Homo sapiens: one gene and its partners. The protein of the gene in region 4 interacts with the protein of the main gene of each other region in a biochemical or structural test. Each region holds a gene or a part of one and is shown on either strand. Other genes may lie near its edges. The genes, in order: MACROH2A1, SMAD4, MAPK9 and ATF2.

Region 1 (6,379 bases), on a different chromosome or scaffold from region 4:
CTGTGGCGGCTTCTCCTTGGAAAGCTCCACGCACCCTTCTGCCAGGGATCCTGTCCTGCAGGGATGACAGACCCAGCAGCCTCGGCAGAGGGAATGAGGCTCCAGCAGCTTCATCAGCAAGTGGCCAGGCCCAGCCCTAAGTCACAGACTGTCAGAAGGGGACAATGGTAGGAGAGAGCTGGGCTCAGGGTCTGGAGCCTGCCACATGCCACCTGCACGGCTTTGGATACACTCCCTCCTTCATCTGTGGAACGGGGAATGGGGATAACACCCTGGCCCAAGGGTCACACAGAACCAAAAGGTGAGACTTTATAAAAATTCTCTCTACAAACCACTGGGGCCAGCAGATGGCCCACACCCACCCAGGTTGCAGTGAACACTGTGGAGCATCCAAGGAGTTGTGGGAGCAGGGTGGGGGTTGAGGGGGATGGACTGCCCTGCCCCCACATCCTGGGACTGCAGAAGCCGACTTAAGACCTGTGACTCACGGGCACAATAACTGGAACACACCAGTCACAACAACGGTTTAACATTTTACTAAATCAACTCACACAAATTCCAAATTGCAAATATAATTAAGGACAACAGATTCTGCTTTGCCTTATTAAATCTTTCATTTTCAAATCCATCAATAAGACAAAAAGTAACCAAAAATTAGGTCTGTTGCAAATTCATGATTCTTCTGAGGGGGGAAACCAAAAGAACATTAGAGTAAAAAGAACGCCACTGGAGGATGTACAATAAAGCACCACAACACACGCTTACAAACGGGGCTTCCTGGCTTCGGTGACAGGTAAAAGACGCTGTTCTCCCCACTGCTGTGCGTCAATCAGGGTTTCATTAAAATAAAACTATAAAATCTCCTAGGTTACACTAAGTCAGACACGGTCTGGAACACAGTGCTTAACAACAGTAATGCCAACTATCAGTGCTAACATAAAAACATTTTAGAAGGTCAAAAACAATTAAACTGGAAACCAAAGCCTTATTTTCCCTAGATGAGCAAAACTGAAAATGAAAGGGGTCCCACCTCCCAGTAGGAGTGAAGGGGATTTTTTTTTTCTTTTAAACTGAAGGTGGGGTACATGGTGCAGCTGGTTCTGTCATTGCTCAGCCTAGTTGGCGTCCAGCTTGGCCATTTCCTGCACATAGATGCCTATACTCTCGCTGTCAAAAAGCACGAAGTACACCGTTTTGATGGAAGAGGACATTGTAGACACGAAGTAACTGGAGATGGCCTTCAGAATCAGCTGAGCTGCTGTCTGCTTTGGAAAACCGTTCCTGGAGAAGAGAAGATAAGCACTCAGCAACTGGGATGCCACGGGGGCTGCAGGACCTGCCCCACCTTACAGGCCACCTCCCTCTGTGCTGCAGCTTGCCTTGTGTTGGGTCGGTGTCTGTTGAGCCCCGTGTCTGCTTGTACGCCAGTGTGGGAAAGCCCAGTGCCCAGAAGATGGGATGGGGGACAGACAACTGGGCAGAGAGCTGGCACCTGCAGAAGGATGTGCTATGTGCTTTTAGAGAAGGCAGTAGCCAGCAAACAGAATAGTGTTTTGTGGTGTGCATTAAGCCCCCGAAGTACAGTGTAAGCTCCTGATTTTCTTTTTCCATGATACCTTTGACTAGCACAGTGCCTGAGCCATAGCCCAGGCTCTTGATGTCAGCCCCAGGGGATGGCTGCAGGTTCTCTGGGAAGGCACTGACCTCTATCCACCCACACAGAAGAGTTACCCCTTCACACCAGGGGCCACCGCCCAGGAATCCACCCTCTAACACACACCAGCGGTACCACCCCAGAGGCCAGAACGCAGGGAGCTGTGGGCTCTTCAACTCTGGGCTATCATCCAAGTTTCCAAGCCAAATGTGTTTGAATCCACACACATTTCCACTTCAAATAAATGTCGTGGCAATTTTTGGAGGTAGGTGCTCTGGACTTAAAAATGTGAAATCAGGACTGGCAAGACTGGCCCTCACTGCTCTGTGGTGTGCCTGAGGCTGCTCCTGGTCAGCATGGCATGTGGGTAGCCCAGGGGACCCCGGAGGAGATGGGCAGCTTGCCTGGTCTAGTGAAAACCTGGGTTTAGAGCCAGTGGCCCTGGATTCACATCCCTTACTGGTCCCATTTTACAGTTAAGGATACTGAGGGTGAGTCTGGGGCCAGCTCTCATGGGTAGGCTCTTTGTTCATTGGCAGATCTACAGTCACAGATCCGCCTGAGCCTGTGGGCGTGTTGGTGTCCAAAGCGCTGGGCCAACCCGCCTATTTCAGCTGGAGCTCTCCCTCACATGAGGCACCTGCTGCCAGGTGGAGGGGTTTCCAGAGGTGGTAAGGTGGGTATCTACTGTAGTACTGCTAGCTTCACTCACTGCATGCCTGTGCACTCTGAACCTCCTGGCTTGGCCCTGGAACATCTCAGCGATCCACTGTTGACAGTGCACAGTGCATTTCACAGCCACAGGGGAAACCCTCTTGTGACTTGCTTTTGACCACACACGGCTTCACCCGGCTGGTGGAGACTTAGGAGCTTCTGGATGCCTCAGGAGTGGAGTTCACTCTTAGAGGACAAGAGATGTGCCCCCAGCCTATGTGAAGGAGCCTGCGGGCAATTAGTGGGGGGCAACCCAGGGTTCCTTCACACACAGGCGGCAGCTCCTCAGCCACAGAGCAGCCAGCGCATACAACTCTTCCCATGAGAGGGGTCAGAGCTCCAGAGCCGCTCTGGCCACGAGAGTGGTGTTAGACCTGCGCAGCTTCCTCCCGGGAGACCCTGGTGATTCTAGACTAGACTAACAGGTGGGCCAGGATGGAGGGCGGCATGTATAGTGAAAGAAAAGGGCTCTGCTGAGAGTGGGCAGGTCATTCCTCTGGCACCAGTGCTGTTTGCAGATCTGAAATCTTGGCCCACACCAGGCAGAGCTGCCCTGACTATATTCACAGGAGTCAAGGAGCACAGAGGACAGGTTATCTGGAATGAGCCACGTTGAGAATTGCTTGAGGAGATAAAAACTCAATCTTCCATTTTTGGGGGGCATCTTTCCAGCAGCTCAGGCTGCTTCTAACTGTGGGCTGGGATCCTCGGTCCTGTTGCAGCCTGTACTTAGGGGCCAAGGGCTTCTGGAGCAGGCAGAGCCCAGTCTGTGGATGTGACCTGGATCAACGGGGGCTGCAGGGTGCTGAGAGGAGCTGTGAGAAGTTGCATTTTGCATGTGAATCCCAAGACCATGCTCTGCCAGCTCCAAGGTCCCTACAGTGAGGTGCCCTCTTGCCTGTCTCAGCCTCACACGTGCACAGGGAGCTGGGCTGGGCTGAGGGCCTGTGGAGCTACTGCAAACAGCAGTTGTCAGGTGGCCCGATGTTCTGCCTAGCTGAGCTAGCCCTGGGGCAGGGCTTCTGTAGCTGCAGCCGGGCTGCATGCCCAGGCAGCTGTCTCCAACAACGGTTAGCTACATCCCACACAAGCTGGGTGAGATGTGGTATGATGCAGACACAGTGTAGCCTGGCCCATGCCCATGCCATGCCATGCTGACTGGGAGGTCCCAAGGGGTCTCCCTGGAACACACCAAAAGTGTGCCAGTCACTCCTGCCTGTGACCAGTGCTTTCTGACACAGACCCCTCCTGAGGCTTTCCTTGCCTCTGCCTTGGACCCTTACAAAAGAGTATGTGACTTTCAGTGAGGAAATATTCTTTTCTATTCCTCTACATCAATAGTTCTCAAGCTTTAGCCTGCATCAGAATTCTGGAGAGCTTGTCAAAACACAACAGTTTGATTCAGCAGGTCTAGCAGCTTTTGAGAACTGCTGTTCTACAAATAGCCAGCATGGACTTTATAATCCAAGCTGGCAGGGTGGACCCAGATGTTGAGGATCTGCAAGTGGGGGAGAGAGGTCAGTATCAAATGTTTTAGACTTGCAGTGCCCACACCTGCCTACCGTCCCGTTAATAGAGAGCAGACGGTTCCACCGGAATGTCCCTGGCCTTGCAAGCATTTCAGGGTTGTTGGTGGGTGAACATGAATCTGGATTTGTTTCCAGGACAACCCTTTGTTGACAAATCCATCCCTCTGTCCTAGGAAGCTACAGCCTAAGGAAGAAACCCTGCTATGGGACTGTGGCTGCTCTGGACTGCGCAGGCTGCCAGGAAGGAATGGCGGAGGTAACGGCTTTCCTAACGTTTTCTGGTGGGCCTCAAAATGTCTTGCTGCCAGTTAGAATGCTTGTAGCAAAATGGAATGTGTAGGTGGATGCCCTGCAAGAGCACTCCACACACAGCCCTGCAGCCTCCAGACAGAGGCAGCGGTGGCACATGCAGCAGCTGAGGCAGGTCAGACCCAGGTCTGCCTCTGAGGCTTGGGTGGCCTGACAGCCCTACTCCCTCCAGGGTAGAGAAGCAGAGTGGTTAAGAGCTCAGGATTTCCCGGAGTCACACAGGATTTGAGTTGTGGTCCCACTTCGGTGCCTTGTTTCCCCATCCTGTGAAATGGAATCAGAGTCTGGGACAAGAAAATGCAAAGCACCGGGGCATGGCACAGAGAGTCTTCAGTTAAGAGGAGCTGTCTATAAAGTAGGTGGCTTTGAAGGGTCTTTTAAAAGGCTCATGCAGTAGAAAACTGCCCCTTCCACCCTCGTCCCTGGGATAGCTGTGACTGGGTAACTGCTGTTGTCGTTGCAGTTACACGGTGCTAACAATGTTGGCCTCAGACCCCAGAGAGCTGCTGGCCGTGACCGTGGGCATGCAGCAGCAGGGGCTACATAGAGGCTCCCCAGTGCAGTACTGACTGCTTTCAGGAGCAGTCATGCCCACTGGTGTTGCATCTTTGGCTTCTCAGCTGGGTTCACTTGCTACTTGCATAACCACGGCCCCTCTGAATAGCCATTCCTGCCTGGCCTGGCCTCTGTGCCAGCCACTCTGTCCTACAGCTGTGCTGCCTATCTTTCAGATCAGATGTTGCAGAGCAAGAGGGACTAAGGGCTTCCACTCTAGAGTCAGAATTGGGTTTGAATCCCAGCTGCTTTGGGCCAGGGTGTTAACCTCTCTAAGCATTAATTTCCTCCACTAGAAATTAGGTGTTTCAGGGGTCTGTGCAGTGATGACAATGGTGGTGATGATGAGGCTGCCAGTACTGCGGCCACCATCAGCCCCACCTGGGAGATGCGTGCACTGTTTGTTGTTTCCACTCTCTCTTCAGCCCCTGACCTGGCCTGTGGGTTGTGTTTATGGCATGTTCCTTAAGTTCCTCTGGAGTCAAGAGTTTCCTACACCATAGGGCTAGGACCTTAAGCAGACTAAAGAGACATCTGAGCTTTCCCTAAATTCACTCCAGTTGTGTCTGTAATGCCCTTTGCCTTTCCCAAGAGTCCTGGACCTCAGTTTCCCAGGGCCAGTGCAAGATGCCCTCTTGGGTCAGCCTCCTCAGTAATGGCTGGGGGGTGTACGCATTGGATGCTTGTCCCACGGTCCTGTCTGGACACGCAGGGACTCTAGGTGCACCAAGGACCACATCCCAGCTCTTCTCAGCCCTCTCCTTGAGTGGGACTTCACTAAGCACCCCTGCTCTCAGTGAGCTCACCTTCCAGGGCTGGGGCCAGGCAGGTATGCAGCAAATCCAGGCTAGGAGCTCATTAGGGACCTCAGAGAGTCACAGCAGGAGAGGCTGTATCCTGGGAGTCCAGGGAGATTTTTCTGGAGCAGACAGATTGCGAGCTTGCAATTGACGGCTGGGGAGGAGTAGAGGTGGATTCTGGTATTCTTTGTCTGTCACTTAGGGTATAGACATTCTTCTGCTAAGATTAGGTCCCCCTCGCACTGTGCTGTGGGCTGCTCTTAGGCCTTTACCATTTTTTAGTAATTGCCAGGTTGAAGTTGCCCCAGCCACAGGCCACTTTGATCCAAGTCATCAGGATCCTGAGCCGAGAGCAATGGTATACAGGAGGGAGAACATTCAGAAGCGATGGTGATGGGGCCACCACTCCCCTGAGCTGTGCCCCCTGCAGCTAGAGAGGGGATGGGGCAGCCCCAAAGTGGCCTCCCACTCCAGGCCCCCGGGCTTTGGGTAAATGAAAAATTCTCCCCCATTCAAAGGTCTCTTGAGTTTCTGTCCTTTTATCTCACCTCTGAGGCCAATGCTTAGGAGGGGAAAGAGGCTGATGGCTATACTTGGGCAGGTCAGGGAGTTCCCAGGTAGTGTTTTATGCACAGAGAGTACGCAGGCAGGGGGCAGTCCTATGGTGGGATGAGGTGGTGGGACCTGGGGTCTGGCTGACCAATGGAGATGGGAGGCAGGGGTTCCATGAGCCTAACAGCTCTGAAGCGAAGGGCTTCTGATCAAATTCTCACTCTACCAAGTACAAGTTGAGTGACCTCAGATGATTTACTTAACCC
Region 2 (7,028 bases), on a different chromosome or scaffold from region 4:
AGTGTCATATAAAAAAATTCCAACATTCTTTAACTGAACTATAACTGGAAATGAGAAACTGGGTTTGCTGTTGTGAGGTAATCAGGCAATTCCATTTTTATGGATGCTATGGGGCTACATTATTTTTATCCTAAGCAACTTCCTGGTAATAAGTTATGAGACACAGTTAATTCTACCAATTTACAATCACTGACAATGAAAATGTTGAGGATGACACACAATTAAAAATATATTTAGGCTATCTAATTACAACTGCCTTTCTCTTTCAAAAACAGGTTATATTATAAAGTAAAATTCAAACAGGTTGAATATATAACTAGTGAAAAATATTTCAGGCTTATCAGGTTCTTAATTTGAAAAGCTATTAATTTTAGAATTCTCTTCCATAAAATCCTGAAGATTGGCTAAGATGAAAGTCCAGAGTCTGATTCTTACAAATTTCAAGTTACAGGAATACAACTTTGGAGGCTTCACTCAGTATTTTCAAGAGCCTTTGTATTACTCTAAAACATGTAACAGGCCTGGCACAGTGGTTCACACCTGTAATCCCAGCACTTTGGGAGGCCAAGTTGGGCGGATCACTTTAGGTCAGGAGTTCGAGACCAGCCTGGCCAACATGGTGAAACCCCGTCTCTACTAAAAATACAAAAAATTGCCAGGCACAGTAACATGTGCCTGTAATCCCAGCTACTTGGGATGCTGAGGCACGAGAATTGCTTGAACCCAGGAGGCGCAGGTTGCAGTGAGCCGAGATCACGCCACTGCATTCCAGCCTGGGCGACGAGAGCAAGACTCTGTCTCAAAAATAAATAAATAAATAAATAAATAAAATAAAAAACAAAATGTAACAAATTGGCAACGATAAAACTAGATTACTGATAATGTCAATAAATGCCCTCAGAAAATGTGTTTTTTATACTTAAACACAATTTCTTATTATTTAATATATAAAACATTTTTCCATTCCTTCCACCCAGATTTCAATTCTTTTGACAACAAATAGAGCTTTAAGTCTAAAATATTCAAATAAAATTGTAACTAACCTTTATATATGCACTTGGGTAGATCTTATGAACAGCATCTCCAGGTGCACGCCCAGCTTCTCTGTCTAAGTAGTAACTCTGTACAAAGACCGCGTGGTCACTAAGGCACCTGACCCAAACATCACCTTCACCTTTACATTCCAACTGCACACCTTTGCCTATGTGCAACCTTAGGAAGAAAAAAGAAATTACATTTTATCTTGATAAGTATTTTAAATTAAATTTTAGTTCAGATTGTATAGCATGCTTAATATTGAAAAATTAAAAATAAAGATCACATAAAACCAAAAGATAGCTATTAACATTTTTGTATATTTCCTTTTTTCTTTTCCTGTTCATATCTAATAATGATGCACATATTTACAACACTTACTATGTGTCAGGAGCATGTAGTATGAATTCTCATTAAACCCTTACAACTCAACAAGTACTATTATTCTAATTTTTTTAGATAAAGAAACTAAGGCATACTGTCCAAATTGATAGCCACTAGCCACATGTGACTATTTAAATTAAATTAAAACTAATTAGAAATCCGATTAGTCAATCAAGTGAGCTATAATTTAAGTGCTCAATAGTTACATGTGGCTAGTGGCTACCGAACTGGACAGTGCAAATATAAATCATTTTCTTCATCACAGAAAATTCTATTAGGCAGAATGGCTTAGAGGTTAGGTAATTTGCCAAAGTCACATGACAGCAAGTGATAGAGCCAAGATTATGTTCTTTAGCACACACATCCTTAAAAGCCGAGATCATACAGTAGCTAAAATGGAATGTTCCTGTAATATTTCACTGTAAGCATTTCCATTTCATTATATAAACTTTTTTTTTTTTTTTTTTTGAAATGGAGTCTCACTCTGTCACCCAGGCTGGGGTGCAGTGGCACGATCTCAGCTCACTGCAACCTCCACCTCCTGGGTTCAAGCAATTCTCCTGTCTCAGCCTCCTGAGTAGCTGGGATTACAGGTGGACACCACCACATATGGCTAATTTTTGGTAGAGACAGGGTTTCACCATGTTGGCCAGGCTGGTCTCGAACTCCTGACCTCAAGTGATCTGCCTGACTCCGCCTCCCAAAGTGCTGGGATTATAGGTGTGAGCCACCGCACCCAGCCTCATTATATAAACTTTTAAACATTTTAATGACTGTATAAAAAAGGAAAAATTTATCATAATTTACTTAACCATTTCCCTTTTATTACCAATTTTTTTAACATTATAAGTAAAACTTTCAGAAACATGTTCTCATTTAATATTACTTCCTTTCAGTAATTTGTAGAAATGTATGATCACAGAAAATAAAATTTTCAAACTGAATTTCAAAAGGTATACTTACTATTCGAAACATAGAAACCTACTAACATAAAAAAGGCTATCTTTTATCATTATATGTTAAACAACAAAAACACCGACAATTAAGATGGAGTGCTTACAAATTCTGAGTTTTCAACATGACCTTTATTCCTTTATTTATATTTAAGAACACATATAATGTACATGGGAAAACATAACCTTGAATAAAAGACAATGTACTATGCTCAATTTTTTAAAGTAACTATCTGACTATACAATCAATACCTTGCTCTCTCAATGGCTTCTGTCCTGTGGACATTGGAGAGTTGACCCAAACAAAAGCGATCTCCTCCAGAAGGGTCCACGTATCCATCAACAGTAACAATAGGGCAGCTTGAAGGAACCTTAAATGTCTCTCCTACCTGAACATCCATTTCAAAGTAAGCAATGGAACACCAATACTCAGGAGCTATAGGAAATAAATGGGAAAGAACATCCTCCCATGAGAAAGATATAAGGCTTTCACTTGCACTCCACAACACAGTTTTTCCTAAAAGAAAGGGTAAAGGGAGGGGAGATGGAAATGTAATGCACCCAAAACAACTGGATTAAAATAACATAATGCATTAAAAGGTAGGAATTTCCATGTCTTCTATTTTCTAGCTCAGTACTTAGCACTGTTCTTAAAACACTAATTTTTTTTTTTAATTTCCAATTACCACTTATCCTCAAGTTCTAAAAGTCATTTTTTAAAATCTGGAATTTGGTTCTTACCTCAAAGGACCAGGTCAACTGAGAATTTAAAGAACAGAAATAATCAGAATCTAAAATAAATTATTTTACCATGGTATTTCATTTGACTACACATATTCTCTATGTAGTCTCAACTTTTATTTTTTAAAAACACACTGACCCTAAGATGTATTCCAGGGAACTGTCCTTGAATAACATCGACTCATGACATATTTTTATAGATTCCCTAATTGAGAGAAAGTGCATAAGCAAGTCAGCTATCCCATCCCTGAGTTAAGGTTAATTATACTCTAATCACACAGTTGTTGTACACACAGATTCTCAACTGTCTCTTGGGTAGAAGGTCATTTGTCCCACCTATGCCATAGCAAAAGGTATTTTTAGTGAAGTCAGGTCATGTTAACTACCACAATTTTAACTTTGGAGATGTATTTAGTGTACTCATTTGAACAATAATATATAATTTTAAATCACTGGGAAAAAAGAGGTGCTACTCTGGTTTACAAAGACAACTGATCAAGTATTTCTAATTTTTATTTGTAAACAACAATTATTACATCAAGCCCAAATACATAAAAATTATTTGGCTTTCCTGTTTTAACTCATTTAACAGATATCTACAGAGTATCTAGGGATCTTTCTAGGCACTGCATACACAGTAGAAAACAAAACAGCTACAGTCCCTGTTCTCACAGAGGTGCAGGGGCAGACAAATAAGCAAACAAATGAAATAACTCAGATAACAATGAACACTGTGAAGAAAATAAAACAGGGTATGGAACAGCAGATGATTGGGAAGAACACTTCAGACTGGATGGTAGGGGACATCCCATCTGAAAAGATGGGACCTGAATAACCTTTTATCTATGTGAAGACTGAACAGATTTCAAAGAGGAAGCGAAAGCAAAGACCCCAGGGTGGAAATAGGTTCGACATATTTAAAAGAAAGATTTATCTGTATCTCAATAAGCTGTTTATGAACTTTAAACTAGAATTTGAAGCAATAAAACTTTCAACAATCTTACTTTCAACAAAGTTACTTAGAATGACAAAAAAGAAACCCAGATCTTACGGAAAAAAAAAAAATAACCTAAAATGAAGTATGATTGATGCTTAAAATTTTTTTAAAAGAAAACAACTTGTAAAAGCTATGTACCCTAATTACTTTTCAAAATGCTGCCAAGCAATAAAATACTTTCCAATGCAATGAGGAGTTATCAAAACAGATCACATGAAGATTGGATAATTCAAAAACTTAAAAACTCAAATGTTTTGCCATGTCACTCTAATGAACTTGTCACAAAGATAAATATTTGTTTACATATATTTCATTATGCTTAGAACATAAAAACCAGTGATACACTAAGTGTCTTCACTGAGTGTCTTCTTAAAAAGCCAGTTTTGAAGTATTTATGAAATTATTTTCAGCCGGGCATGGTGGCTCATGCCTATAATCCCAGCACTTTGGGAGGCCAAGATGGGCAGATCACTTGAGCCCAGGAGGTCAAGGCCAGCCTGGGCAACATGGTGAAACCGCGTCTCTACGAAAAATAGAAAAATTGGCTGGGCGTGGTTGTGTCCACCTGTAGTCCCAGCTACACGGGAGGCTGAGATGGGAGAATCACCTAAGTCTGGGAGGTCAGGGCTGCAGTGGGCCATGAGAGTGCCACTGCACTCCAGCCCAGGCCACAGAGTGAGACCCCGTCTCAAAAATTTAAAAAAATATATATATATTGTCTATAGAAAATGTAATGTGAAGGTATCACATTATGCTATGGACAAGAAGCTTCAGCAAACAACTGATAGGTACACTGGTTAAACCAAAACTACAGAGATTGTCTAAGACAACAATTACCCAATGTTTTGGTGGCCAAAAAAAACACAACAAAAAACAGTAACAACACTTAAAAGTGGTCTTTACACAATCAGTCCAAATGTTAAATTGTTTTAAACAAGTATTTATAAAGCTAGGTAAAAAGAAAATGAGGGCCAGGCACGGTAGATCACGCCTGTAATCCCAGCACTTTGGGAGGCCGAGGCGGGCAGATCAAGAGGTCAGGAGTTCGAGACCAGCCTGACCAACATAGTGAAACCCCGTCTCTACTAAAAATACAAAAATTAGCCGGGCGTGGTGGCGGGCGCCTATAGTCCCAGCTACTTGGGAGGCTGAGGCAGAATGGTGTGAACCCGGGAGGCAGAGGTTGCAGTGAGCCAAGTCGCGCCACTGCACTCCAGCCTGGGTGACAGAGCGAGACTCCGTCTCAAAAAAAAAAAAAAAAAAAAAAAACAAGTAAAGCCAGATTACTAGACTGTTTAGGGATGTATTCATCACTTTAAAAGGGCCAGGCATGGTGGCTCATGCCTGTAATCCCAGCATTTTGGGAGCCGATGGGGCAGAGATCACTTGAGGCCAAGAGTTCAAGACCAGCCTGGATAACATGGTGAAACCCTATCTCTACTAACAATACAAAAATTAGCCAGGCATGGTGGCGGGTGCCTATAATCCCAGCTACTCGGGAGGCTGAGGCAGGAGAATGGCTTGAACCTGGAGGTGGAGGTTGCAGTGAGCCGAATTGCATGACTGCACTCTAGCCTGGGTGACAGAACAAGAGTTCATCTCAAAATAAATAAATAAAAATTTAAAAAATAAATAAAAGAGCAAAAAAAAAGTGATATCCATAAAAAGCAGGACAGTAGCTACCTCTGGGGAGAAGGAAAGAGGTTTTGACAGAGACAAAATTCATGGGGTAGGAGGGTTTCTGGGATGCCATAATGTTTTAGTTCTCAATCTGTGTAGTGGTTACATGAGTATTGGTTTTAGTGATGTTAGACTATATACTTACTTGTGTTACATACTTTTCTGTATATTACATTTCTCAAAAAAAGAAAGTTTATGAAAAGGCTAGACCCCTTGACCTACAAAAATGTTTAAAATCACAACACACAATGTAACACAGAAAATCCGTTACAGAAGATAATAAATATATATCGTTAAAAGAATGCTTCTGCCCCACTAATATCACCTTTTCCCTAACCAGAACAAGTATTTGCCTCTTAAATCAGCAAAAAGTTTATTAAACTATGACATCTACTGCTAGCCAGCACAGTAACCCTGGTTCTCACACTCTGGTGTCACTGTAATATGGCCTTTTGATCTAGAAATTCTACAAATTTCTTAAACTAAAATATGAGAAAAGTTATAAACACAAAGATGTTCCCTTCTATTTTTTTAAACAGCTAGAAGAAAAATTAAACCAACATAATCAATAACAGAACATTTACACAAAGAAAATTATGTAGACCTATTTAAGAATTTAAGACCCTTTGAATTAATCATTATGGGCGCTGTGTTTATGTTTTAAAAACCTTTACTGGAAATATATACTAAGATATTTACATATAAAACTAATATAGGATTTGCTTCAAAATAATATAGAATGAAGAAAGAGAGTGAGTATGAATGAAACAAGATTGGTCATTACTTGATAATGGCTGAAACTGAGGAATGAGTACAATGGGGGAACTTCCTGTATTATTCCGGTATGCTTAAAATTCTTTATGCTTGACTTATACACAGTGGAGTACTATTCAGCCATAAAAAAAATGCGATTCAGTCACTTGAGACAACATGGATAGAACTGGAGGTATTATGTTAAGTGAAAGAACCCAGGCAAAGAAAGACAAACATCACATGTTCTTATCTGTGGGATCTAAAAATCAAAACAATTGAACCCATAGAGACAGAGAGTAGAAGGATGGTTACCAGAGGCTGGGAAAGGTAGTGGGGGATTGGGGGAAGGTGAGGATGGTTAATAGTACAAAAAGTAGTTAGAATGAATAAGGTCTAATATTTTACAGCACAACAGGGTGACTGTAGCCAATAATTTAATTGTACACTTTAAAATAACTAACAGAGTATAGATTGTAACACAAAAG
Region 3 (7,028 bases), on a different chromosome or scaffold from region 4:
TAACGGAATAAACTAAATAATACAGTATTTTCATTTAAATATCAGAATATACTTATCAAAGAGTAAATAATTTCTTCTATGTGTCCAGCTATTTTTGGCAAAATTAAGAGCTAATATAATCGGTTTAACTGAACTCTAAGTCTCAAAGTCATCACAGGTAGTCAAGTTAAAAATAAAGAATGAAATTGAACCACTTGGCTTGTGACACTAATTAACAAATACAGTAAAGCCCCCCTTAGAACACAGTCTGGAGTGGATTTTACGACTTTGTCCTCGTGAGCGCTCGTGTAAGCAGGTGGTCATGCTGCCTGAGGCATTAAGAAAGCATGGCGGGGCCAAGGTCGCGGGGAAGGATACGGTCAGTGCCTTGGAATATCACACAACCTTTCACCAGCTCTCCCATGATGCAACCCACTGACCAGATATCAACTGAAAATAAAATGAAATGATAAAATTATGAAGTGCCATGAACAAAACAAAAGTGAGGAAAAGGAATTCTAACAGTGCACTAAACACACAAATATGGAAAAATAAATTGCTAGCTAAGGGTGACATTTTACACAATATGAATGATTGCTGACCTCTATTTTAGCCTTCGGTTTGTAGCAATCTGGGGTTTTAGTGCCAAAGAGTCCAATACTTTATAGCTTAAAACAAACAAACAAACAAACAAAAAACCAGAAACAAGAAGTGCCTGTGAACACAAAGCTTTTCAGGGCCACACGCCCACCCCAGCCTCCATGGCCAAGTACCGGGTCCCCTGTGAAGGATACAGTCTCTTCCCGGGAACAGGACTTTATGGAGGACCATTTCTGCCATGATGCACCCGACAGACCAGATGTCCACTACCAAACACCAGGGGATTAAAAACCAGCTAGAGTCCCCCATCTTTTTTCTTCAAACCCCCTCCCAGGACAAACCCGGTACACGTCACTAGCTTGCCGGCGGGAGCCTCTGTGCGTTGTTGATACCACACCTCCTGAGCGATCATTTTCTAGACTGCCCCGTCAGAAAGGCAGCAGCACTCACTGGCGGCACAGGCTGGCTGGCTTGCAGGACTGCAGGTGAGGCCCTGCTAGAGGGGCCCAGACTTCCACGGTGCCCACCCTCATCTGTGGGGCCTCAGACAGACAGCAGAGGCCTCTAAGTGCCCTGCTGGCGGGCCGAGGGGAGAAGTGAACAGGGGATCAAGTTTTCTCTCCCCTCCACAGGAAGCACATGAAGCTGTGCCCCTCAGGGTGGGAACACAAGCTACAACGCAGCAAGATGAACCTGTAGCAAAACTCATTTCAGATGACCCGGGCAAACTTTCAGTCTTTTTAAAAATAAGTAAGCGTGATTTCGTTATTTTCAACAAATTTGCTAAAAGCCAAGTTTCAAAGAGCTCTGATATTGCTAGAATAAGCTAAGTTTTGATGTAAAAAGACACCAATTTTACATGAAAACATGTGTTATTCTATTTACATCAAATTCAAAAAAACAATATGCAGACCAACAAATAAAGCTGATCCATGGTACTGGAGATCAGGAGATTGGCCAGCCTCGTGGGCTGCGAGGAGGGGCCATGGGGAGGCCAGAGCTGCTGCTGCTGTGGGTGTGCTCACCTCAGCTGAGCTGCACACTCAGGATTTGCACACTTGGCTATAGACAGCTTAACTCTGATTAAAAAGTTCAAAAATAACAATTTTAAAAGTGAATTTTTAAAAGAGAATGATTTTAACCAATGGAAAAACACAATTAATTATTTCTTATCTCTGGATCATGCTATATTCTGGGTGTAACAGTCCCCACAGTATATATCATATGGTTCAAAGGAAAGAGAAAAAACTCGAGACCACCGCTAGAGCAATTTCTAAACATCCCAGCCTCTTCCAGCCCCGGCTATACTCACCGTTCTCTTTGTAGCCCATACCCAGGATGACTTCGGGCGCCCGGTAGTACCGTGTCACCACGTAAGGGGTCATCATGAAGTTAGTGCACGCTGTCCGGGCCAGGCCAAAGTCAAGGATCTTCAGGGTGCAGTCTGATTTCACAACAATGTTGCTAGGCTTCAAATCCTAGGAAAGAAATGGCTTAAATTAGTAAAATGAATGAAGCATGCTAAATAAACTACTTCACATCCGTGAGGGTCGTGAAGCCAGTGTGAGAGTGTAGGGAGTGAACTGAACTCTGAGATTTGGGAACAACTTTGGAAAATCTTACTCTCAAATTGAAACTAAAACAAATCAGCCTAAAGCCGTCAGATGGTGCCCCTTACCCCCAGTGGAAACCTTCATGGCCCCCATTTGCCCTTTCTGTGGTCTCGCAGGCCCTCAGGCTGTCCTATCTACCCTCCATCCATGCATCTACACGTCCAGCACACATGCCCCCCTCCCGCTCTCCACGCCTGGACTTGAGTTCCCCAATACTCTGACTCTCTCTTGCTAAGGTCCTCATGCTGTCAGTCCAGCACACACGGCCCCCTCCTGCTCTCCACGCCTGGACTTGAGTTCCCCAATACTCTGACTCTCTCTTGCTAAGGTCCTCATGCTGTCTGTCAGTCCAGGGCAGTGCTGTCCCACAGACAATGTCATATAATGCGAACGATGTGTATAATTTACATTTTCTACTAGCCATGCTCAACAGCATGCAGAAATAGGTGAAATTAATTTTAATCATACAGTATATTTTTTTAACCCAATATATCCATAATATTATCATTTCAAAATGTAATCAACATAAGAAAAATACTGAGATATTTTACATTCTCTTTTTAGTACTGAGCCTTTGAAGTCCAGTATGTATTTTACAACTGCAGCACGGCCACATCCTGAGTGCTCCACAGCCTCCTGTGGTTAGTGGCTGCCATACTGGACAGCACAGGTCTAGAATCGTCTGATCCTGGAATCTTCCCATGGCTCTTTCTCTCCTTGGAAGAGCAATTCCATGATCATCCACCTCCAATCTTCTCACCTTCGCCACAAAGACACGCCAGCACTGGTGCTGCTGTCTCCATCTGTACGTGGCACAAAAACTCACCTGCTCATGTTCTGGTTGCCACCTCTCTTCCCTCCCCAGTGCTGACTCTGTGTGAGCTCTCAGCACTCAGAAGCACGCCTGGCGCGAGCAGACACTTGGGAAGTGTCTGCAGAATGAAGACATGCATCATATTCCACCTGACTTGCAAAGCCTTAACACAACTTCTGCAACCTTTTCCCTCATAACTAAGGGATTTTCTTCCTGCTGATCCTCCACCCTAGCCCCTTCCTCAGGCCTTAGGAATTTGACTTTTGCCTGGGGACTTCGGCCTGCAAACTCACTTGAGAAACTGTGACTTGTAAACAACCCACACCCATTCTTTTCACAAGAGTAGTGCACCTGCAATGTCAAACTGCCAAGCCACTGACATGGCGTAAGGCATGAGGATACTTTACCCAGGAAGTTGCAGGTTCAGTAGCACTGCCTAGCACCTGCCTGTAAGACACCCCAACTGATGGGCCACAAGGGGGGTTGCAGGCGGCATGCCTCAGTGAAGGCTGTGGGGCTGTCATCAGGGCAAGCAGGAAGCCATTTCGACATTGACAACAGGTACAATTACACTGCCATGCTGCTAAGTGACCTGTTTCTAGGCTTCCTAGATTCTGTAAGATTTAAATGATAAACATATAATGTTTAAAAATGCAGTCACAATCTCTACCTGGCCCCAAAAAGAGGCCCCCAGCCCCTCCATTCCACCTTAGAGTACTGTGCAGACACCCCCGGTTCCCAGAAAGGCCTGAGAGGAAGAAACCGGGCTGCCTCCCTGCATGAAGGAAAGCCAGGGAGAAGCAGCCCACATTCAACCAGGGACGCTCCGCTGTGAGGACCAAGTCAGGGAGCTAAGACCAAATGAACGAATTCGCTTCTTGTTTCCTTTTTTAAAATCAAAGAGTATGACAAGAACAGGCATTTTAGAACATAAATTACTAACAGATAAAATAATGCTCAATCTCACAAAAATCTTCTTTAAAAACCCAAAATGAATGCCCATTTTTAGTCTATCACTTGGCAGCGATGGAAAGCAAGCAGACTCGGTGCTGGCGGGAGAAGCAGAAACAGGCGCTTCCTCAGGCCACAGAGGGTGTGCAGTGGGCACTTTCTCTCCAGGAGGCTGATTTCTGAGGTGTGAAATGCACACACTTCCCCAGCCAGCAGGCCCTGAAGCCCAGCCCACCCAGAACTAACAGCACGGCCGCAGGAGCAAGGAAGACAAGGACAGCCTGGTTCTACCAAGGACAGACGCAGCAGTGGAACCATCTCCACGGGCTGCCTGCCAGCTCTGTGAACCCCAGTGCGCCAGAAACACGCTCATCTGAAGACACTGCCATCTGTCAAAAAACTGTCATCACATACTAATTTAACAGGAAAAGCACACTTTACTGCCGTCTGCTGGAAGACTGTGGTGATAAAGTCCCAAGCTTGTGTGGGTGCTCTGTGTGGCCAATGGGGAGGTGGCTAAGGAGGTGCTCTCCCCGCACCCTGGGACCCTCTCTAGTCACCCCCGAAATACAACCTGAGGCAGCTTCCCAACACCTCACTTCAATTTCAAGACAGCAGAGGAAAGACAGTTCTGCCCCTTCAAGTCTTGAAAATCACTCAGAACAAAGAAGACAAATGCCAAGTACAGATCCAAGTGACGCCTGGATCGGGGCTTGGCTCCCAAAATGCCTGGAACCCAACGCTACCCTGTGGGCAGCAGTGAGGGTACCCACAGCACCCGCAGCATGAGTGGGGCAGGTGCTGACCTCCCCCACTGCCCGCTCAACTCTGGGATCCAGACCCACTGCTTGAGAGGTATCCCAGGAAGGAGCACATCATGACAGGTGTCCACTGTCTGGCCTTGCCGGTCCTTCCCCACAGGTACCTGTGGCCACCCACCGGGTAAGAACAGCCAGGCACTCTTGAGGATGAATGGACACAGCTCTAAGTAGACACTGAAACCCGAAGACCCCAAACACTCTCAGGGCTCCTCCACTTGCAGGGTTCGTGGGGTCAGGGGTCAGGGGTCAGGGCATAAGTGAAGTCTGGGCCAGGTCTCTTGCGGCCATGTTATGGGAGGGTGGGAACGTTAGCAAAGGCTTAGAGCAAGGCTGTGAGAGAACATTGCTGTCCAGCCTGCAGCAGTGTGGGCGCTGTCTGGGCCTCTCTTCTAATCAGTGTGGAGGATGCATTTGCCCCATCAACATGCCAGACCTGAGGCCTTATTAATCTGCTCCAGCAACAACTGCACCTTGACATGCACAGCAGCTGCGGCCAGGACTGCCAGTGCCGTAAGCCTGTGGCCGTCTGGGGTCATTCTCCAGAATCCATGCAGCTTCTTCAAGGGCTGGACTAACGAGTTAGACTGGGATGCAAGATACCACTGTCTCTGCTCCCCTGAGGCTTCCATGGTGGCCCTAGTCTCCTCCACCCACCCCGGGCCCTGCAGGGTGTGATCTTGTTTTTGATTTACTATCTTGGGGGCAGTTTCAGGTTTCCATTTGGCCTTCCCACTGTGACGACTCTTACTCACAGGCCAAGGAACTCGTGTGGGCGTTACTCCACCTGCCAAGCGCCTCCGCTCCGGCTACACACTGAGGACTGGGGAGACGGCCACTGGGTGGCCTGGGACCCTGTGGCCCACTGAGAGCCACCAGACACAGACGGCTCAGGAATGAAGGCCTGGGACACAGGCCAGGCAAGCCACAGAGGCCTGCCAATGTGAGAGCTGAGGGTATGAATAACAGGAAAGGGTAGGGAAAGAGCCAGCAGAGAGACCACAGTGACAGGGACTACAGGGTGTCCCACTAACCTCTGTCTTCCAGATTTCCCCTGAGGAAGAGAGAACCATGGGCGCCACAGGAAAGCCATTCCCAACTTATGTGGAGAAGTAGAGCTGAGGGGGCCAGGGTGGACTGTGGGGTCCACGGAAATGCACTCCTTGGTCTCCCGCCACAGGAGTGAGAGTGACAGATGGCCCAGTGTGGTGTCTGCACCTACCCTCTGTCCCTGCCAGGGCACACCTCCCACAGAGCCGTCAGCCAGGGGCCGACCGGGCAGGGATGCTGAGGCAGGCCCGTTCCTGTGTGACACCGGAGGCCCTCAGAGCTGCACCGCAGTCTGGACCAGGCCTCTGAGGGGCCAGGACTGCACTACGTTCAGCTAGCATTTGCTGCCTCCTCTGGCTGCTCCCCCTTCCTTCTCGCACAGGCCTCCTCCCGGCCAGTCCCTCGCCTGTCTAACCCACCGTGGCATGCGGAAGCCGCCCACGAAAAGCCCCACGCTACAGGGACAGGAAGCTGCAGGGCCGCCCAAATGCCCTAGCTGAGCGAAGGAAATGCCAACCTCTATAAATGGCCACGACACCCAGGAAAGGCTCAGCAAGTGAAATGCAGGTGCTATGGAGGCAGAAGAGGCAAGGGTAGCACTTGGAGAAGTTTTCATTTTATTGAAAGTCCAAGTACGTAGTAGATGTCCCAGATCCCCATCTCCATCCCAGAAGTGAGGCTCCACTCCTTCCTCACTCCTGCTGGCCCTTCACGCAGAGAAACTGATGCCCAGCTTCCAGGTGCAGGGCCACAGGCGCCGCATGCACAGTCCTGTGGGTACCAACAGGGAAGGCACGGTGAGGCCTGCCTGCAACAGGGCTGCCTGGTGAGTTTGCGCTCTGCCACATGAGAAGCACAGCCCTGTACCCCAGCAGCCAGGCTTACATCCCTCCACCAAGGGACTGAAGGGGCCTTTTCCAGAGAAATTAAATGGTGCCCAGAGAAAAAACCTACAGAAGGTGACACCTGTGGCTGCCTGTGGTCCAAGAGACACCCATTCTTTAACAATTTACCCATTCACTCAGTACTTCCAGTCAGCCTTTAATGCTTCAATCTCTTTTTTTTTTTTTTTTTTTTGAGACGAAGTCTCGATCTTGTTGCTCAGGCTGGAGTGCAATGGCACTATCTCAGCTCACTGCAACCTCCGCTTCCTGGGTTCAAGAAATTCTCCTGCCTCAGTCTCCTGACTAGCTGGGATTATAG
Region 4 (7,028 bases):
TTGGAGGTAGAAGCAGGAAGACAAGTTAGAAGGTAACTGTTAATAATCCAAACAAAAGATGATGATGGTTTGGGCTTACGTGGTGTCACTGAACACAGACATAGAGGATGAGATTCAGGTCTGATAAAATATGCTGTTAGTTTCAGTGTAAAAGAAAGAAGAAATTAAGGATGACCCCTAAATTCTCAGCTAGAACAACTAAATGGATGGAGAAAATTTACTGAGATGGGGAAAACTGGGGGAAGAATCAAGGACTCTGATTTTGACCTATTAAGTTTAAGATGTCTATTAGACATAGAAAAGGTAATGTCAAGATGGAGTTGGATATAAATCTGGCAATCTGGTGAGATACCTATGCCCATAGAAATTTGGGAGTCATCAGTATGTAGATGTTTATTAAAGTTATGGGCCTGGATGAGATCACCTAGGAAGAAAATCAAGAAAGAAGAAGAGGTCCAGATTTTTTTTTTTTTAAATCAATTTCATATGGTATACCTTGCTCAAGGAGGGCCTAATGATTGGGGAATGCAGAAAGAAGGAATACTCCTAAAAGATGCTGAAGCAGCCACGAACAATGAAAAACTGTTAAGTGTGAAAAGAATGAAATGCTCTCTAGGAAAAAAGATTTGTATCAGAGATTTAAAAAGCATTTCCAATAACTGTAATAATGTGGAAACAACCTTTATGTCCAAAAAGAACAGGATAACATAATACATATACATATCATATAATAAAATAAAGTACAATCATTAAAAAGTATGATTTGGGGAACTCTCTAATGACATGGGAAAATATTCATCAATACTGAGGGTCTAAAGCACAATATAAAATAAAGCTAGGATCTTTATATCCATCTATCCTTCTATTTAACTATTCACTTATGTATTTGTACCTATAAATGTATATATCTAGAAAAAAATGTTTCAAGATAGTAATTCTTATTCAATTATGTGCTAATAGGTGATTTTGGTTTTCTTTTCATGTTTCTGTATTCTTAGAGAAGAAGAATGAGAATGTACTTTTAAAATGAGAAAAAGAAAATGAAGAAAAAAAAACAGAAAACAAAGCATTTATTCTTAGCCAAAAAGTTATTTTTTCTGTATTTCCTTATTTCTAGCTCCTCTGCCATGACAGAAGTCCATTAATAAGTATGGTTTTAGAATAACAATCTAAAAAAGAATATTGCCACTGCCTCTTTATGTGTCCCATTGCCCTTCGCTGTGTCCTGCATGGTACTCCCAAATAAATATGTGCTTATTCTATGTGCTTGTGAACAAAAGAGTGATCAAGAAGTTCCCATAATAATGTTACTCAACACACAACTGTAGCCCAGGTGGTCCCAGATTATCTGGGTATTCAAGCTAGTATCATCATCGTCCTAATTGCCGCTAACAAAGATCCACTGCTGAGAATGAGTAACTAGTCCCTTAATCCTGTAAAAGTCTAAAAAACCACTGTTCAAATAATTTTTTGAATAGATTCTTAATTAAGCTGTTACTGTATAAAAGTAGCTAAATATAAAATAGCAAAACACAGAAAAATTAAGTTAAATTTATAAATTTATATATCTTTTAAAAATAAGTTTTATGTAACATGACTGTTCTCCCCTATAATTTTTCTATGTACAATAAAAGCTGCAGTCTTCTTACCCTGAAATATCTGAGTATTGACAGGCTTTCACATATAAAACTATTGCAAGCTGACACTGAATTTAATACATTAACATTTTATGGAGATTAAATAGTAAACTTTATTTGGGTACTGTTCCTCCCCCTTACTTTGTATTTCTAAAAATTTCTAACCTTCTCATCACTGGTAGTAGACTCTGGGTGAGGTAAAGGACTATCCTGGTGAGTTGTTTCTACAACAGAAGGCTCCTCAATTTTGCTTCTTATGATAGGTGTTGCAAGAGGGGATAAATCTAGAGGCATCTATAATTCAAATAATAAGGAAAAGGTTATAAGTTCAAAAACAGTGTGTCTAAATTTAAAAAGCAGGAAGTATAAACTATGATTACTTTTCTGTCAGAAGTACTCTTTTTAAATTTCATGGTTACAACATACTTTTTTAATGTCATCTTCTGAAGCTTTCTTGAATTCATTCTCAAATGGACTCGCCAACTCATTAAACAAACCCACTTCTTCACAGTTTTTCAAGAATCTTGTTGGTGTTGGGGTCTGATCTGAAATAAATGTCAAGAAGTAATCATGCATATTTAAATATGTTAAGACTCTAAAATATAGCTACTAAGTTAACAAATTAGCAGGACTGGTTCAGTCAGTTGTTAATTCTCTCTTTGGAAAGACCTCTTCCTTTAAAACAAACAAAATTTGGTTAAATTTTTGTTGTACTTCGTATTTCCTCCAACTTTAAGAACTATGAAATATGAAAGTAGGAAAGAAGTCCTTTTTGCTCCTTAGTCCACTGCTTCTTTCTGAGTAGAATGGCATAAACATCCTCTACTCAAGAGATAAACTATTATTATCTAACACAGTATAAAGAATTTTTTAAATTTACATTATTAAAAACTACAATTATTTAAATAAATGAAATTTGGGGAAAACTAGGATAAGAGCATGTATATCTGCTTTAACTTGGTTCTTCCACTAGCTGTTCATACTCTATTATGAAAGCAAACTAAGATAAAACAATCTTTAATAGGTAGATAAAAATATTGTAAGAAAGAAAAAAAAAGTTAAAACAGCCCTAAAACAACAAACCCTCTTTTTACCACTATCTACTGAAACTAATTTTCTAATTTAATGCATTTTACAAGCTAGGTACAAGGAATATGTGTGAGTCACATGCCTCCAGAATGTTCTAGCTTAATTCCTAAGGAGTAAAGAAAGAGTCTACTCTATTTTCTTACAACATGAAACATTTCAACTTTACTCGAATATGTACTCCTACTATGTACATTAACATAGGTACTCAGTGTCCATGTATAGGCTACAAAAAATGCCAGGTAAGATTTACACTGAATGAAAAGCAAGAAACTTATAAATTCTGCCTATTTAGTGTTACTATTTTCAAGGGTGTCTATTCATATTGATTAGAGTTGGTAGCACATTCAAATTCTATTCACATTTAATATATTTTAGAGCACCAATTTTACAGGCTATAGCAGGGATCTAGCCTAAGTGAAGTAAAAGTACTCTACTAAGGAAGACTCTTGGTTTAAGAGAAAATACTCCTAATTCCTTTTGTAAGATTAAAATTTACATATTTGTTAACCATTATGTCCCCACAGAGGGCATTACTTCCTATTTTACCTTTGCCCCCCACATGTATACCTAGAGGACTAGTATTTTTACTATGTACAAATATATTTCACACTAAAATGACCCACTTGTAATACAAAACTAGACATAATGCAGGCCTGTTTCAGGCACTGTTAGTAATATCAGAATTACTAAAAGGACTCTATTATATCATAATTTTACTAGTTTCTAGCCTATCCCTTAATTCCCACCTCCCAAAAGATCTCAAAAATCACATTACAGTAAGTAAAGTACATGTATTAGCTTAAGTCCATCATGACTAAATTAGTAGGTCAAATCTAAATGTGACTCTTCTGTTCACACCCAAAGGGTTTGTCTATCTAAGTTCATCAGAAGGCTCTTAACTTACATTAAAGGGAGGGGAAAATCTTAAAAAAATAAAATACATAAGCATAAGTCACTTTTATCAATGATTACTGGAACCATCAGACTTCAGAAAAGTCAACATAGGCACAATCATTTAACATGCACATTGCATATGGCTACTGATCACCAAAAATATACCACACACATCATGCATTTTATTTGCATAGTAATGTTAACCTATTCATCTCAACATGTTAGTGAAAAAAAAGGTCAAGTACTGTGTTTGAATGTGCTCTATTTTTCTACTGCATTAAATGTGATCAGACAGGAAAGTAATTTCTAGAAACCAATTTCAAAACATATTTGAGTTAAAGAGTTACACACAGACAGAGATTGTGCTAAGGCAGAAAGTTTCAGAGAAACAAAGAGCTTCATGCCTAGGAGAGTGAACTTTCGAGGTTGTTACTATTTTGCTTGTTTGGTTCCTTTGGTTCTAGCTCTTAATGTCTAATGTAAAATACTCCAAAAAAAAAAAAGCATTATCTCACTCTTCTGTATAAGTAACATATCTCTAAGTTACTTATGGAACTTAGTTAGGATATGTTGGAAGTTCCCCTACATTTTTCCTACGTATATTGTTTTCGATAAATTAACTTTGTTACCTTCAATTTCTTCATTACAAAAATTTCAATACTGTAAGTAGAGGGAAAACCACCGAATATTTGCTTTATTATCTATCCAAAACACTGCATAGAACAATTTGGTCTCTATACTGATTAATAATTTAAAAGTATTACAGTATTTGGGTGTAATTCCAGACTTATATGACATATAACAAGCTTTACAAGAGAAAAGAAAAATCTGGAGTTAATCTGAATATTTATGATATGTAAATCTGTGATGACACAAAGGATCTGAAATTTATATAGTTTTGTTTTATCATAATACTTATAAAATATACAAAAAAGTAGCAAAATTATACATGACATATATGTATATATACATAGATGTGTGTGTGTATATATTTAAATACCAAAAAAAGGCAGCTAATACAGCATGGAATGACAATCAACCAATGTATGAACTGGGTTTTTCTTTTCACATACAGTGAAAAATAATCATCTGCTTAGGTGATACTGTACGTTCATAGTGTCAACACACAAAAACTGCATTGACTGAATTTAGAGCCTCCTTACTGAGAATATTTTACTAATACAAATGTTTAGTCTGAAAAGAAATATAAACAACTCTAATGAACAAGTCTGCTCACTGTTCTTTCTCCAATGGGAGAAGCTTGATCATTTTCTATCTTCACACAGCCTTGTAAGTCAGTTGTACAAGACAGCTAAAAGAAATGCTGACTAAATACCATGTTAGTTCAATTATTAGTTAAATGTAAAATTTGTAGATGGTATGAATGTTCCCAGAGTTCTAATGAACTTCCACAAAATCGACATTGGAATATAAATTTGAAAACCACACAAAAAAATGAAATGAATAGTCAGAAGGAAACATGAAAATGTAATGGGTAAAATACATGTTGCCAACATTTACTATAATGAAGTCATTGGAATATCACCAGACTATATTATTTACAGAGAATACACAAAAATTGTGCACATTCCAGGTGAAATATGTATACAAGCTATTAATAAAAGCATATACTAACCAGCCACAATGACACTGTCATTACGTGCTGGACCAAATTTCAGTGTCATCTCATGTTTATGTTTATGGACAGCCAAATGATCCTCGTTGGTAAAACGCTGTGGCAAAAAGTTTTAAAATATAGTTAAGATTTTCAATTTGATCAAATAAGTAAAATGATTAGGAAATTAATTTCCACAACATGTAAAACCACCATTAACAGTGAAATAGCAGTTTTTAAACTATAAAAGAATCCGTTATTGTTAGTAGATAGCACACTAGATTGCAAACAATCACAGAGAAACCTATTACTCAAGAATAAGCAATACTGATATATTGCTAGGTCACATAACTCATTTGAGAGCATTTAAAAATAAAATTGGAGGCAAAGAAACTTTATATAAATTTCTTATGGATACTAAAAATAGACCACCATTAATTTGTCTTATCATAGTAGAAACTATACTCCATGGTTCAATGACTTTTCAAGAAAGTACTGTAGTATTAATATTTACCTAGACTTAAGGTTACTTACCACTTTTTAAAAGAGAATTTTCTTATAAAAGTATTACGCCTGGACAAAATTTAGAAATAAATCTGATTTTTATGTTACCACATAAAAAAGAATGCCTTTGTTTTAATCCAGCAAAGAAATAGCAACCGATACAATAACAAAACAGCTCATTTTAAAATAAAAAAATTTAAAGTAGCCAAAATAATTTTTTCATGAGAGTTCTTACATAAAAATGGAGCAAAGTTGTTTTTAGAACATTTTATTTTTAAAGTTATCCATCATATTTTTTCCTACCTCTAACTTGGATAAGTTTTGCATGCCAAAGGTAACATTTATGATTACAACATAATAAATGCATTATCTCCAATGTCTGAACATCAACATTTTTGAAGATGCTCATTAAGCAACATTTATAACTGAAAACAGGGAGCTGTTATTTCAGAGCAATAATTTTAAAATGCTAAGTTAACAGATCTCAATTCACTCTTTATAACCTTACAAGTGAGGATGTTAAAATATATATACTTGAACTTGGTTTGCCCAAACCATCAAAATGAATTCCATTTCTTGTGGTCTCCTTCCCCTACCCAATTCACTACATCCTTTCATGCAACTAATAATAGTAGCTTTAGGGTTACCTTAAACACAATGTAAAAGAATGAAACATTTTTAACATTTTAACATCTTTGGCCCAGTCCACTATCCGTCTGCCTGTAGAGGTGAAAATCATCTCATGTGTGCGGCACAATGCCTTGGTTATAGCACCTATCATATTTTCATATGTCTGTCCTTTTAAGTAGGCTGAGCTCCTACCGTGGTCCCCCAAACTTAGCATATAGTTAAGTACTCAATAAATGCTAACTGAAAGAATGAATTCATTACAATAAAATAGATGAATCTTAAAGATCAATCTGAGGGGGCTAAAAAAGACCCTAAACCATTGTTCATTAAGATGAATTCAACTTCAATTTAATCTTGCTACATTTTATCACTTAGTCTTTGGATTACTTCACATGCCAACAGAAAACTATTATTTTATAACCTCTCTTCAGAACCTGCCTGTATTACCACTGAAGGAGAGTGTTCAGATGCAACAACACTTCCACTACTTGACATATTCATTCACTCTTCAGACATTTACTGGGCAGCAACTATAGGCAGTAGGACCACAATCAAACTTTTCCCCACCCAGGTACTGTCTTCCTATTACTTTATCATTATAAGAATCTCCCCCAATTTTGGAGAAATAAGAAACAGTGGTACTTTTGACAGATTGCTGA

Evidence for each region.
Region 1: the proteins of ATF2 (region 4) and MACROH2A1 form a complex in vitro, tested with the Homo sapiens proteins (one study listed by BioGRID and IntAct).
Region 2: the proteins of ATF2 (region 4) and SMAD4 form a complex in vitro, tested with the Homo sapiens proteins (one study listed by BioGRID).
Region 3: of the proteins of ATF2 (region 4) and MAPK9, one has a biochemical effect on the other in vitro, tested with the Homo sapiens proteins (4 studies listed by BioGRID and IntAct, with this or other methods).

What each region holds. Positions count from the first base shown.
Region 1 is NC_000005.10:135,333,861-135,340,239, forward strand, and holds the end of MACROH2A1 (core histone macro-H2A.1), read right to left. Parts: intron 5,716-6,379; exon of another isoform or gene 5,568-5,715; intron 4,154-5,567; exon of another isoform or gene 4,071-4,153; intron 1,282-4,070; coding exon 1,116-1,281; 3' UTR 521-1,115; downstream 1-520. UniProt on the Homo sapiens protein: Variant histone H2A which replaces conventional H2A in a subset of nucleosomes where it represses transcription. Nucleosomes wrap and compact DNA into chromatin, limiting DNA accessibility to the cellular machineries which require DNA as a template.
Region 2 is NC_000018.10:51,061,203-51,068,230, reverse strand, and holds part of SMAD4 (mothers against decapentaplegic homolog 4), read right to left. Parts: intron 2,809-7,028; coding exon 2,625-2,808; coding exon of another isoform or gene 2,618-2,624; exon of another isoform or gene 2,486-2,617; intron 1,213-2,485; coding exon 1,044-1,212; intron 1-1,043. UniProt on the Homo sapiens protein: In muscle physiology, plays a central role in the balance between atrophy and hypertrophy. When recruited by MSTN, promotes atrophy response via phosphorylated SMAD2/4.
Region 3 is NC_000005.10:180,247,082-180,254,109, forward strand, and holds part of MAPK9 (mitogen-activated protein kinase 9), read right to left. Parts: intron 2,058-7,028; coding exon 1,892-2,057; intron 846-1,891; coding exon of another isoform or gene 774-845; intron 648-773; coding exon of another isoform or gene 619-647; exon of another isoform or gene 582-618; intron 430-581; coding exon 358-429; coding exon of another isoform or gene 317-357; exon of another isoform or gene 1-316. UniProt on the Homo sapiens protein: Serine/threonine-protein kinase involved in various processes such as cell proliferation, differentiation, migration, transformation and programmed cell death.
Region 4 is NC_000002.12:175,116,188-175,123,215, forward strand, and holds part of ATF2 (cyclic AMP-dependent transcription factor ATF-2), read right to left. Parts: intron 5,354-7,028; coding exon 5,257-5,353; intron 2,183-5,256; coding exon 2,064-2,182; intron 1,932-2,063; coding exon 1,803-1,931; intron 1-1,802. UniProt on the Homo sapiens protein: Transcriptional activator which regulates the transcription of various genes, including those involved in anti-apoptosis, cell growth, and DNA damage response.